2 separate regions of the Homo sapiens genome follow, and region 1 is linked to region 2. The links come from fine-mapping of genetic effects on gene expression. A gene starts in region 2. The other region holds a variant in brackets. All regions are shown on one strand. Distances are from middle to middle.

Region 1 (5,378 bases), 200 kb before region 2:
TATTTGTATATCTTCCTTGGAGAAAACTCCATTTTAATCCTTTGTTCATTTTTTAATTGGGTTTTTGGATGTTTGCTGTTGTTGACTTGTAGCTTTTCATGTATTCTGGAAATTAATTTCTTATCACACATATAATTTGCAAATATTTTTATCATTTCGTGGGTTGCTTTTTACTTTCTTGATAGTGTTCTTTGATATATAAAAGGTTTTGATTTTTATGAAGTCCGATTTATCCATTTTATTTGTTGCCTATGCTTTTGTTGTTACAACCAGGAAATCATTGTGAAATCCAGTATCATGAAGCTTTTCTTCTAAGAGTTGAATAGTTTTTGCCCTTACATTTAGATCTTTGATCTATTGTGGGTTACTTTTTGTACATGGTGTTAGGTAAAGGTTCCACTGTTCTTGCCCTTGGATATCCACCTTTCCCAATATCATTTGGTGAGAAAACGGTCCCTTCCCCATTGAACGATCTTGGCACACTCGATGAAAATCATTTGGCCATATATGCAAGCATTTCTTTCTGGGTTATTATATTTCATTAATTTCTATGTCCTCCTTTATGCCAGTACCACAGTGTATTGATTACTGGGGCTTTGTAGTAAATGCTGAAATCAGGAAGTGTGAGTCCTCCAGCTTCATTCTTCCTCTTCAAAGCTGTGTGTCTATTTAGAGTCATGAGATGCAATATAAATTTTAGGACAGATTTTTTTTTACTGCAAAAATGTCACTGAGATTCTGATAGGAATTTTATTGAATCTGCAGCTCACGTCAGGTAGCACTGTCCTCCTAACAATATTGAGTCTTCCAATTCATGAAAACAAAATGTCTTTCAATTTATTGATGTCATCTTTCATTTCTTTCAGCCATATTTTGTAGATTTCAGGTATAATCATTTTACCTCTTTGGTTAAACTCATTCCTAAATATTTTATTCTTTTTGATGTTAATATAAATTGAAATTTTTTTTCTTAATTTCCCTTCAGATTGTTCATGGTTAGTGTATTGAAATACAACTGATGTTTGAATGTTGATTTTGTATTGTGCAACATTACTGAATTTATTTATTAATTCTAATAGGTTTGTTCCATCTTTAGGATTTTCTACATATAAGTTCAAGTTATCTGTAAACAGAAATAATTTTACTCCTTCCTTCCAATTTTAACGTCTTTTTTTAAATTCTTGCCTAATTTTTCTGACTAGACCTTTCAATACTATGTTGAATAAAAGTGTCAAAAGCAGGCACCCTTGTCTTGTTCCTGCTCATACAGGGAAAGCTTTCAGTCTTTCTCCGTTGAGTATGATGTTAGCATTGGGTTTTTCACATATTGCCTTTACGTTGAGGTGGTTTCCTTCCCTTCTTAGAAAGTTTTTATTATGAAAAAATATTGAATTTCATCAAATGTTTTATTGATTCAATCTTATTACTGATTATAGTTCCATTCATATTTTTGTGTGTTTCTAGGGGTTTGTCTACTTCATCTAGGTTATCCAATTTATTGGCATACAATTATTTATAGTACTTTCATAATCATTAGTTTATTAGAATTGGTAGTAATCGCTTCATTTTTCTTTTTTCTTTTTTTTTTTTTTTTTTTGGTTGTTGTTGTTGAAGAGAGAGAGACAGGCTCTCACTCTGTAGGCCAGCCCAGGATGGAATACAGTGGTGTGATTATGGCTCACTGCAGCCTCAACCTCCTGGGCTCAAGTAATTCTCCTTCTTCAGCCTCCCAAGATGCTAGGACTACAGGTGCATGTCACCATGCGCAGCTAATTGGCTTTTTTATTTTTTTGTAGAGACAGGGTCTCCCCAGGTTACCTATGCTGGTCCAAACACCTGGTCTCAAGAAATCCTTCTGCTGTGACTTCCCAAAGTGCTAGGATTAAAACATGACCCACCATGCTCAGAGTCCATTTTCATTTCTGATTTTAGGAATTTTAAACTTTTCTCTTTTTTTCTTAGTCAATCTAGTTAATGGTTGTCAATTTTGTTGATTTTATTTTGAAGAATCAACTTTTGGTTTCATTAATTTCCTCTATTCTTTTTCCATTCTCCATTTTATTTATATCCACTCTAATCCTTATTTTTCCCTCATTCACTGTGCTTGGGTTTAGTTTGTTCTTCTTTCATATCCTGAAGTATTAAAGTAGGTTGTTGACCTGAGATCTTTCTTCTTTTTTAATGTAAGAGTTTACAGTTATAAATTTCTTGCACAAGACTCAATTTCTCTGAACCTCTGATACCTCACCTGAAAACTGCAATAAGAGTGCTTTCTTCATACCTTTCTTTTAAAGGTTTAATGCAGTCAATAAAACGAGATGCCACACACAGTGGAACCAATGTCAGCTGCTATATGACTACCATCATCATTAGCCTAGAGGTCAAATAGTCCTAGAATCAAATCTCAGATCCACCTGTCACTAGCCATATGACACCAGGAAAGTTTTACACCACTCTAAGCTTCTGTCTTTTCATCGGCAAAATGGAAATAATGTCTACCTCACAGGGTTATTGTGTGGATTAAATGAGATACAGGGAAAGTATTTAGCACAGGGCCTGGCACATAGGAAGTGCCCCTCAACAGTACCTTCCTTTTTCCATATATATATATATGGAAAAAGAGGTAACACATAAAACACTAGGACATGGTTACTGACTACTTGTGGGAGAGAAAGAAAAAAAGCTAAGTGCAAAGAATCAAGCCTGGTATGTTAGTTTTTACTGACTGAGATGCATCCAAGATGGGATTAGACATACAAGATAACTTATCAGGGAAGACACCTGTGAGGGAATGTGGGGCAGGCATGAAGGTAGTACGGGAGAACCCACAGACCACTATGCAGAGCTGATTCCTGTGAAAAAGAAAGAGAAAGAAGTTTTAGGTACCAATTCAATTATAAGAGTTTTTGCAAGGCTGATGGGGAATCCTCCA[A/G]CCAGTCACCCATTAGAGTTAAAGAGAGCCTCAGAGAACTAGACTTGCTTTCACGCCCTTGCTGGGAGCCTGTAGGAAAGAAGCTTTCTGTGCAAAGGAGGTGGTGAATTTGAAATGCACTGACCTGGGCCTTCTGTCAATCAAGTCTCTGCCATGGAGACCTGGCAGGGTCTCATTCATGACTGCCACAACAGAGACACTGAGAAAAAGATGCAACCATGAAAAGGTGCAAAGGTGGCAAGTTCTAATGACATAGAAAATAGCAATCAGCCTTTCTCACATCTGAAAGCCTTCCAAATATCTGAGCACAGTAGAGAATTGACAGAGGACTGATCACCAACTGAGAAACAGGGTGAGAGGGAAAAAAAAACTGCAAGAATATAATCATCTCCTATCAATTTTCCAACAGAAATAACGTAGTCCTTGAAGAAACAATTATAGAGTACCTCATGTTACATGCTTGTTCCTGAGGCTCCCCCATGTAAAATAACATCATCTTCATTCCTTCTTTTCTTTTTTTTCCATGACAGCTCCTTCAGGAACAGGACATCTTCCTGGCCTTAATCCATTATAGCAGCCGTGATGTCATTTCTGTATTTCAGGAAGACTGGCAGGTATGATGACCTTTCCTCTTATCCTGGTTCCTGCAGGGCTAACTGCCATGCTTGGGAGAGGGAAAAGACTTATTTGCCTGTATCTGGGACTGGATCTCCTCCTTCCTCCACTAACTCCTGCTTCTCAGCACTAATTCCTGCAGTTCCCTTTCTCCCTGGCCTTTATGCTCCCTGTACCCCACTGTCTTTTAGACATAATTATCTCCAGCCTCTCTCTCTGCTCATTTGTTTCTCAGATTCAAATGAAAAACACAATTTCACATGGTGAAACCCTCTTCATTATTTTTAACATCTCTCAATAGTGTAATTCTCTCCATTCCCATAAAGCTCAACCACTTCTCAAAGTATTGCTTGACTTCTTGTCTCCAGACTTTGAAATCTTCCTTGCATATGACTGCCTCATTACCTTTCTAAAATCTAGTTAATTCACTTAATCAAGAATCTCCAGGGGTCTACTCTAGCCACTTTGATAAGTTCACATTTCTTCTATTTACTAAGCCTTCTCACTTCCTTTACCGCTACTTCCTAGTATAATTCCTCCATCCTAATTAGAACTGTCTTCCTACACACCCCTGTCCCTTCACCCATATAGATATAAAATTCTTAGTTCCAATGCTATGTCTGAAAACAGAGTGAAATCCCCTCTACCATCTGCACTGCAGACTTAACCACACCCTTCATCACAAGCAACATCTGACCTCGTGGAGAACTAAGACTTTAGGATTAACATGTGAACCTGAGACTCAGAACACAACCTATGTGTGGTTGAGATCTTTTCCTGATGACCAGTTCATGTGTTTAAAAAAGATACAGAAATGATGAAGGCAAGGTCCCTACGCCAGGAGACATAAAGCCTAAGACAGGAAATGAGACCTGAAAATAATCATGATACCAAAATAGAAAAAATTGAATGCCACAAGAAATCAGAGAAATCTGATGGGAAATAGAGCTACACATTGGAATCACTGGAAAACATTTTTAAAAGTGGATGCTCAAGCCCCACCCATTAGTTCCAGTTTAAAGGTCTGGAGAGGGACCCAGGCATTGGTAATTTTTAAGTCTTCCCTGACACTACTAACATGTAACAAGGATGGAGAACTCTTGTTGTAATAGGTAGAACTTAAAACTAAATCAATGATGTTCAGCTGGAAGTACTGGAATTACCTAAGGACCTTTTTCAACATACATAAGACTATACTTTTTTGGCCCTATTTATGAATGGGCTACACCAAGAACTCAGTAATCCAGTTAACAAACAGAAGCTGAATGGAAAAGCCACTTTATTTGATAAGTTAAATTATATAGAAAGCATTTTCAAATAAGTGATAAGTGATGCTAAACCTCCTCTAAATAATATTTATGGGAATGTTAATAATATGAGTATTCTAGGCTGGGTGCGATGGCTCACGCCTGTCATCCCAGCACTTTGGGAGGCCGAGGTGGGCGGATCACAAGGTCAGGAGATCGAGACCATCCTGGCTAACACGGTGAAACCCCATCTCTACTAAAAATGCAAAAACAAAATTAGCCGGGCTTGGTGGCAGGCACCTGTAGTCCCAGCTACTCAGGAGGCTGAGGCAGGAGAATGGCAGGAACCCGGGAGGCGGAGCTTGCAGTGAACTGGGATCGCACCACTGCACTCCAGCCTGGGTGACAGAGTGAGACTCCGTCTCAAAAAAAAAATTTTTTTAATGAGTATTCTAAAAATTATATGAAATTTCTGGAAATCAAATATGTTATCATAGTGTCATATGCCACAGAAGTAACTAGATTTTGTGAGCTGTGTCTTTACCATAATAAATTCTCATTAGATTTTTAACCATAGTCATTTT
Region 2 (5,378 bases):
CTCAGGCCCTCTTCACCCAGGCCCAGGTGGCCCCATCCAGTGGCCTCTACAAATGGATTCCTCCTCAAGCTGGCCCACAGACCTTCCTTCCAGCAAGTGACTCACCTGCAACCTCCTCCACACACCTGAGCCAGCGGTTCTCAGTTCTTCTCTGAGGTCCCCCAGGAAGGGTGATGATCTCATGTAGGTTCACTCGCATTAGGTGACACATTCTCACAAACAAACTGGTCTGTGCAGTAAAGCACACAGCCACAACTCCTGAGGATGTTTTGCCATTGCCAAGTGTTGTCATGAGATGAGAGGTAAGAAAACAACATTTCACATCATGATTTAGCTCTAAATGACTTTTTTAATTGTATTTTTTAATTGACACCTAATAATTGTACATATTTATGGGTCCATAGCGATGTGATACATATAAGGTACAGTGATAAGGTCAGGGTGATTAGCATATCCATCATCTCAAACATTTAGCATTTCTTTGTGTTAGGAACATTCAATATCCCCTTTCTAGCTACTTGGAACTATATATTATTGTTAACTATAGTCAGGCCGGTTGCAGTGGGTCACACCTATAATCTTAGCACTTTGGAAGGCCGAGACGGGAGGATTGCTTGAGCCCAGGAGCTCGAGACCAGCCTGACCAACATAATAAGATCAGTCTCTACAAAAAAATCAAAACACTTGGCTGGGCATGGTGGCTGTAATCCTAGAACTTTGGGAGGCCTAGGCGGAGGATCACTTGAGCTTAGGAGTTCAAGGCCAGCCTGGGCAACATAGTGATACCCTGTCTCTTTATTTAAAAAAAAATTGAAAAATAAAACAAAAAATTAGCCAGGCGTGGTGGCGTGCACCTATAGTTCCAGCTACATGGGAGACTGAGGCAGGAAGATCACCTGATCGCAGGAGGTTGAGGCTGCAGTGTACTCCAGACCCTGTCTCAAAAAAAAAAAAAAATCTGTAGTCATCCTACAGTGGTATAGAACATTAGAACTTATTCCTCCTCCTATCTAGCTGTATTTTTTTTTTTTTTTTTTTTTGAGACGGAGTCTCGCTCTGTCGCCCAGGCCGGACTGCGGACTGCAGTGGCGCAATCTCGGCTCACTGCAAGCTCCGCTTCCCAGGTTCACGCCATTCTCCTGCCTCAGCCTCCCGAGTAGCTGGGACTACAGGCGCCCGCCACCGCGCCCGGCTAATTTTTTGTATTTTTAGTAGAGACGGGGTTTCACCTTGTTAGCCAGGATGGTCTCGATCTCCTGACCTCATGATCCACCCGCCTCGGCCTCCCAAAGTGCTGGGATTACAGGCGTGAGCCACCGCGCCTGGCCTTATTTTTTTTTAAGATGGAGTCTCACTCTGTCGCCACACTGAAGTGCAATGGTGCAATCTTGGCTCATTGCAACCTCTGCCTCCCGGGTTCCAGTGATTCTCCTGCCTCAGCCTCCAAGTAGCTGGGACTACAGGTGCCCACGACCACACCTGGCTAATTTTTTGTATTTTTAGTAGAGACGGGGTTTCACCATGTTGGCCAGGATGGTCTCAATCTCTTGACCTCATGATCCACCCGCCTCGGCCTCCCAAAGTGCTGGGATTACAGGCATGAGCCACTGTGCCCGGCCTATCTAGCTGTAATTTTATATCCTTTAACACATCTTTCCCTGTCCCTCCCTTCCTCTACCCTTCCCAGCCTCTGGTATGCTCTGTTCTACTTTTTCCTTCCATGAGATCAACTGTTTTTAGGTTCCACATATTAGTAAGAACATGTGATGTTTAACTTTCTGTTCCTAGCCCACTTCCATTCATGTTGCCACATGTGACAGGATTTCATTCTCAAGCCCCCAAAGGCACCTCACTGGGCCTTTGTTTTTTTGTTTTGTTTTGTTTTTGCTTTTGTTTTTCAAACCTCTGGGACAGATGGCTCCTTCTAAGGCAGCCCATCCCCCTGGTGGACAGTTCTCTCCAATCTTGACAGAAGTCCTCTGGACAACTCACGTCCTCTCCCTGGGCTCATCCTGCACCGCATGGAGCTGGGCAGCCTGGGGACCCGCAGTGAACAGGACCTGGGGTGACTTGACCTTGAAGCCTGGAGGTCAGAGCCCACATCTGCCCAGGGGTCAGGGCCAGCTCACATCATGTAGACCCTGGTCAGCATCCCTGGGGCAGCCCTTGACAAGGCTGCAGGCCTTGTCTTGCCCTCCAGGGGGAGACATTGCACACAGACAACACTCAGGAAACATTCCCCTGGTCATGAACCTGGCTTTGCTAAGGAGGTGAAGGTAGAGCCCACTTTCCATCCCTTGCTCCAAAACACCCTTCCAGGCCCTCCCATGTACCTGCTCTGTCCCTTCCTGGGTCCTCTGAGGACCCTGTTCTGTGAGGGGTCCCTGTGCAGCTCCCCATTCCCTCCTGGCACCACCTGTGGGGAAGGTGCGGTGACCACAGGACAATCAGCCTCGCAGAGGACAGAGACCACCCAGGATGGTCAGGGAGAACATGGACAGGCCTTGAGCCTCAGCTCAAGGGAGGGAGGGTCCCCCTGAAGTCTTCCCCAAGGACAGTAGAGCCCAGAGCCACCCACCTCCCTCTATCACAGTCCTCTCTTCCCAGGACACACAGGACACCTCCCCCTCCATATCCGGGAGCTGCAGCTCCACCTGAGACCCCTGGACTTGGGTCTCTGTCCCTGGGTTAGAGGCCAGGCTGGTGACACTAGAGACAGAGGGCTGGTCCCTCCCCAGTCATCCCCCAGTGAGCCCCTTTCCATCCCCCAGAGCCACCTCTGTCACCTTCCTGCTGGGTGTCTTCCTACCTTCCCAGCACACTGAAGAGCATGGGGAGACCTGGCAGCTCACTGTGTTGCAAAGAAAATAATTACCACATTTGGATATGCCAGGGTTCTCTGTGTGCTGCTGACAGACCCATAGCCAGGACACAATAGAGGTCAGTGCTGGAGAGGGGGGATCCTCCTCCCCTGATGGGGACAGAGGTCTCATCAGCCTTGATTCTCAAAGTGTGGTCTGGGAAACCAAAATGTAGACAGAAAGGAAAGAGAAAGTAAGGACAAAGGTAGGAATGAGAGGAGAGGAAACAGAGCTTCCTGGACAAACCCCGCCCCAGCACACATGATCAGACAAAGCTCTGGGCCCCAGGGAGGAGGCTCAGCACAGAGAGTGGAAAACAGCAGAGGTGACAGAGCAGCCGTGCTCGAAGCGTTCCTGGAGCCCAAGCTCTCCTCCACAGGTGAAGACAGGGCCAGCAGGAGACACCATGGGGCACCTCTCAGCCCCACTTCACAGAGTGCGTGTACCCTGGCAGGGGCTTCTGCTCACAGGTGAGGGGAGGACACCCTGGGAAGGGGCGGAAAGAGGGCGCACAGAGAATGGCTAGGGTCCTCTGGGGAGGATGGAGCTCTAAGAGGGGACAGAGGGCTTCTCTTGGAGCCAAATAGGAGAGAGGACATGAAAGGGATAGAGATCATAAAAGGAAAGTCTCAGTGATCTGAAACTGTTAGTGAATAAACAATCTCCCATTTTTTACCTTTTCCAACTGAATCATCAATGAGCAATAAATTTCAAAAACTGCTGACAATAATCACAATTTAAGTCAGCGTGACAATTAAGGAAAACATTTTAAAAGGGGCATTAAACAGAGCCCTGAGCCACCAACCTCAGATATTGGCAAATAAACCCCAGGACATGAAGAGCCCTGGGAATGCTCACTAACTCATCCACAGGAGTCTGCAGCCTATCCCAGGCACTGGGGTGCAACCAACATCACACAAATCCCTGCCCTCACGGAGCTCACGCTCTCATGGGTGGGGAAGACAGACAAGCAAAGAGATCTAGAATGTGAGGTCAGGTGTTGACAAGAGCCCTGGAGGGAACAGAGCAGAAAAAGGTCAGAAAGGGAATACCCAGGGTCTCTAGGGGAGGTGTCAGGGAAAGGATCTCCCAAGAGCACCCTGATGTGATCAAGATCTGAGGGCAGTGGGGAGGGAGCCATGCGGATCCCTGGGGAAGGGCATTCCAGAGAAATGACAAGGTCAGAGGCACTAAGGGAATGGGAGTCACACTGCTGACCTTGACCCAGTAGGACACACACACACACACACACACACACACACACACACACACACACTCCAAGGTGGAGGGGTGAAGACACCTGCTCAGGACCCAAGGCCCCATTTTTCTACCCTAATGCATAGGTCCCAATATTGACTGATGCTCTCTCCTCTCTCCTAGCCTCACTTCTAACCTTCTGGAACCCGCCCACCACTGCCCAGCTCACTACTGAATCCATGCCATTCAATGTTGCAGAGGGGAAGGAGGTTCTTCTCCTTGTCCACAATCTGCCCCAGCAACTTTTTGGCTACAGCTGGTACAAAGGGGAAAGAGTGGATGGCAACCGTCAAATTGTAGGATATGCAATAGGAACTCAACAAGCTACCCCAGGGCCCGCAAACAGCGGTCGAGAGACAATATACCCCAATGCATCCCTGCTGATCCAGAACGTCACCCAGAATGACACAGGATTCTACACCCTACAAGTCATAAAGTCAGATCTTGTGAATGAAGAAGCAACTGGACAGTTCCATGTATACCGTGAGTATTTCCCCATGACCTCTGGGTGTTGGGGGGTTAGTTCTACTTCCCACACATGGGATTGTCAGGCCTGGGCTGTGCCTGTGTCCTCCTCTGCATTATACCCCATGTTAAGGTTTGAGCATCTAGTGCAGGACACACTATGGGACAGACATCAAAATACCGAATGTCTTACTCTGGAGTCCTGATCCTGCAGACATTTGCTTCAGAGGAAGGACAATCTGATGTGGGTAACTTATCGAGGGGAGACCAGTCTCAATCTAGCCCCCCGGGACCCTCCTGGTGAACATGTCCCTAAGAAAGACCCAGTAGGACTCAGTCAGGGTCTGGCCTGAAGGGCCTTCTGGGATCCTCACAGACAAGCTCAGCCCTGGGAATCCCCTGCTCCAAAACACTATCCCAAGGTTCTCAACTCCTGGTGACCCTGAGGAGCCTGGGCCAGGGCTAGATTGTGGCCTCCTGGGCAGGGCTGACTAGGAACAAGAATTTGAGCTATCCGAGGGCTGTGGCTCCTGGAGCTGGTAACCAGCCAGGGTTCAGGCACTAGAGCCTCATTTGGGCAAGGATGGAGCCTCATCCTTCACCTTAGTCTCAGCCTGGAGAGGACAGATGGACAAGCTCCCCAGGCCATCAGCCAACTGCCCTGGGGGCTTAGGAGATGCCATAGGAAGTTTACCATCCCCAGGAGGAGGAACAGAGGAGACAGGATGCTCCTGAAAGCTCCTTGTCCACCAGGGATCAGGCTGAGAGGCACTCTCAGGGAATCCAACAACAATA

What was found. PIP is the estimated chance that this variant, and not a neighbour inherited with it, causes the effect.
Region 1: its variant is fine-mapped to the expression of CEACAM1 in whole blood (TOPMed, PIP 0.93).

Annotation. Positions count from the first base shown.
Region 1 is chr19:42,722,110-42,727,487 of GRCh38, reverse strand. It overlaps PSG3 (pregnancy specific beta-1-glycoprotein 3), which reads left to right. Exons shown (of 7, transcript NM_021016.4): 6 at 3,463-3,546. The coding sequence ends at 3,506. Among named protein-coding and RNA genes, the nearest start is that of PSG3, 16 kb to the left of the region's middle. The variant A/G (reference allele first, on the strand shown) is at 2,933.
Region 2 is chr19:42,526,264-42,531,641 of GRCh38, reverse strand. CEACAM1 (CEA cell adhesion molecule 1) reads left to right here and starts at 3,161. Exons shown (of 9, transcript NM_001712.5): 1 at 3,161-3,331; 2 at 4,242-4,601. The coding sequence starts at 3,268. All of the region lies in intron 2 of LIPE-AS1 (LIPE antisense RNA 1), which reads right to left. RefSeq lists enhancers at 1,999-2,861, 3,084-3,153.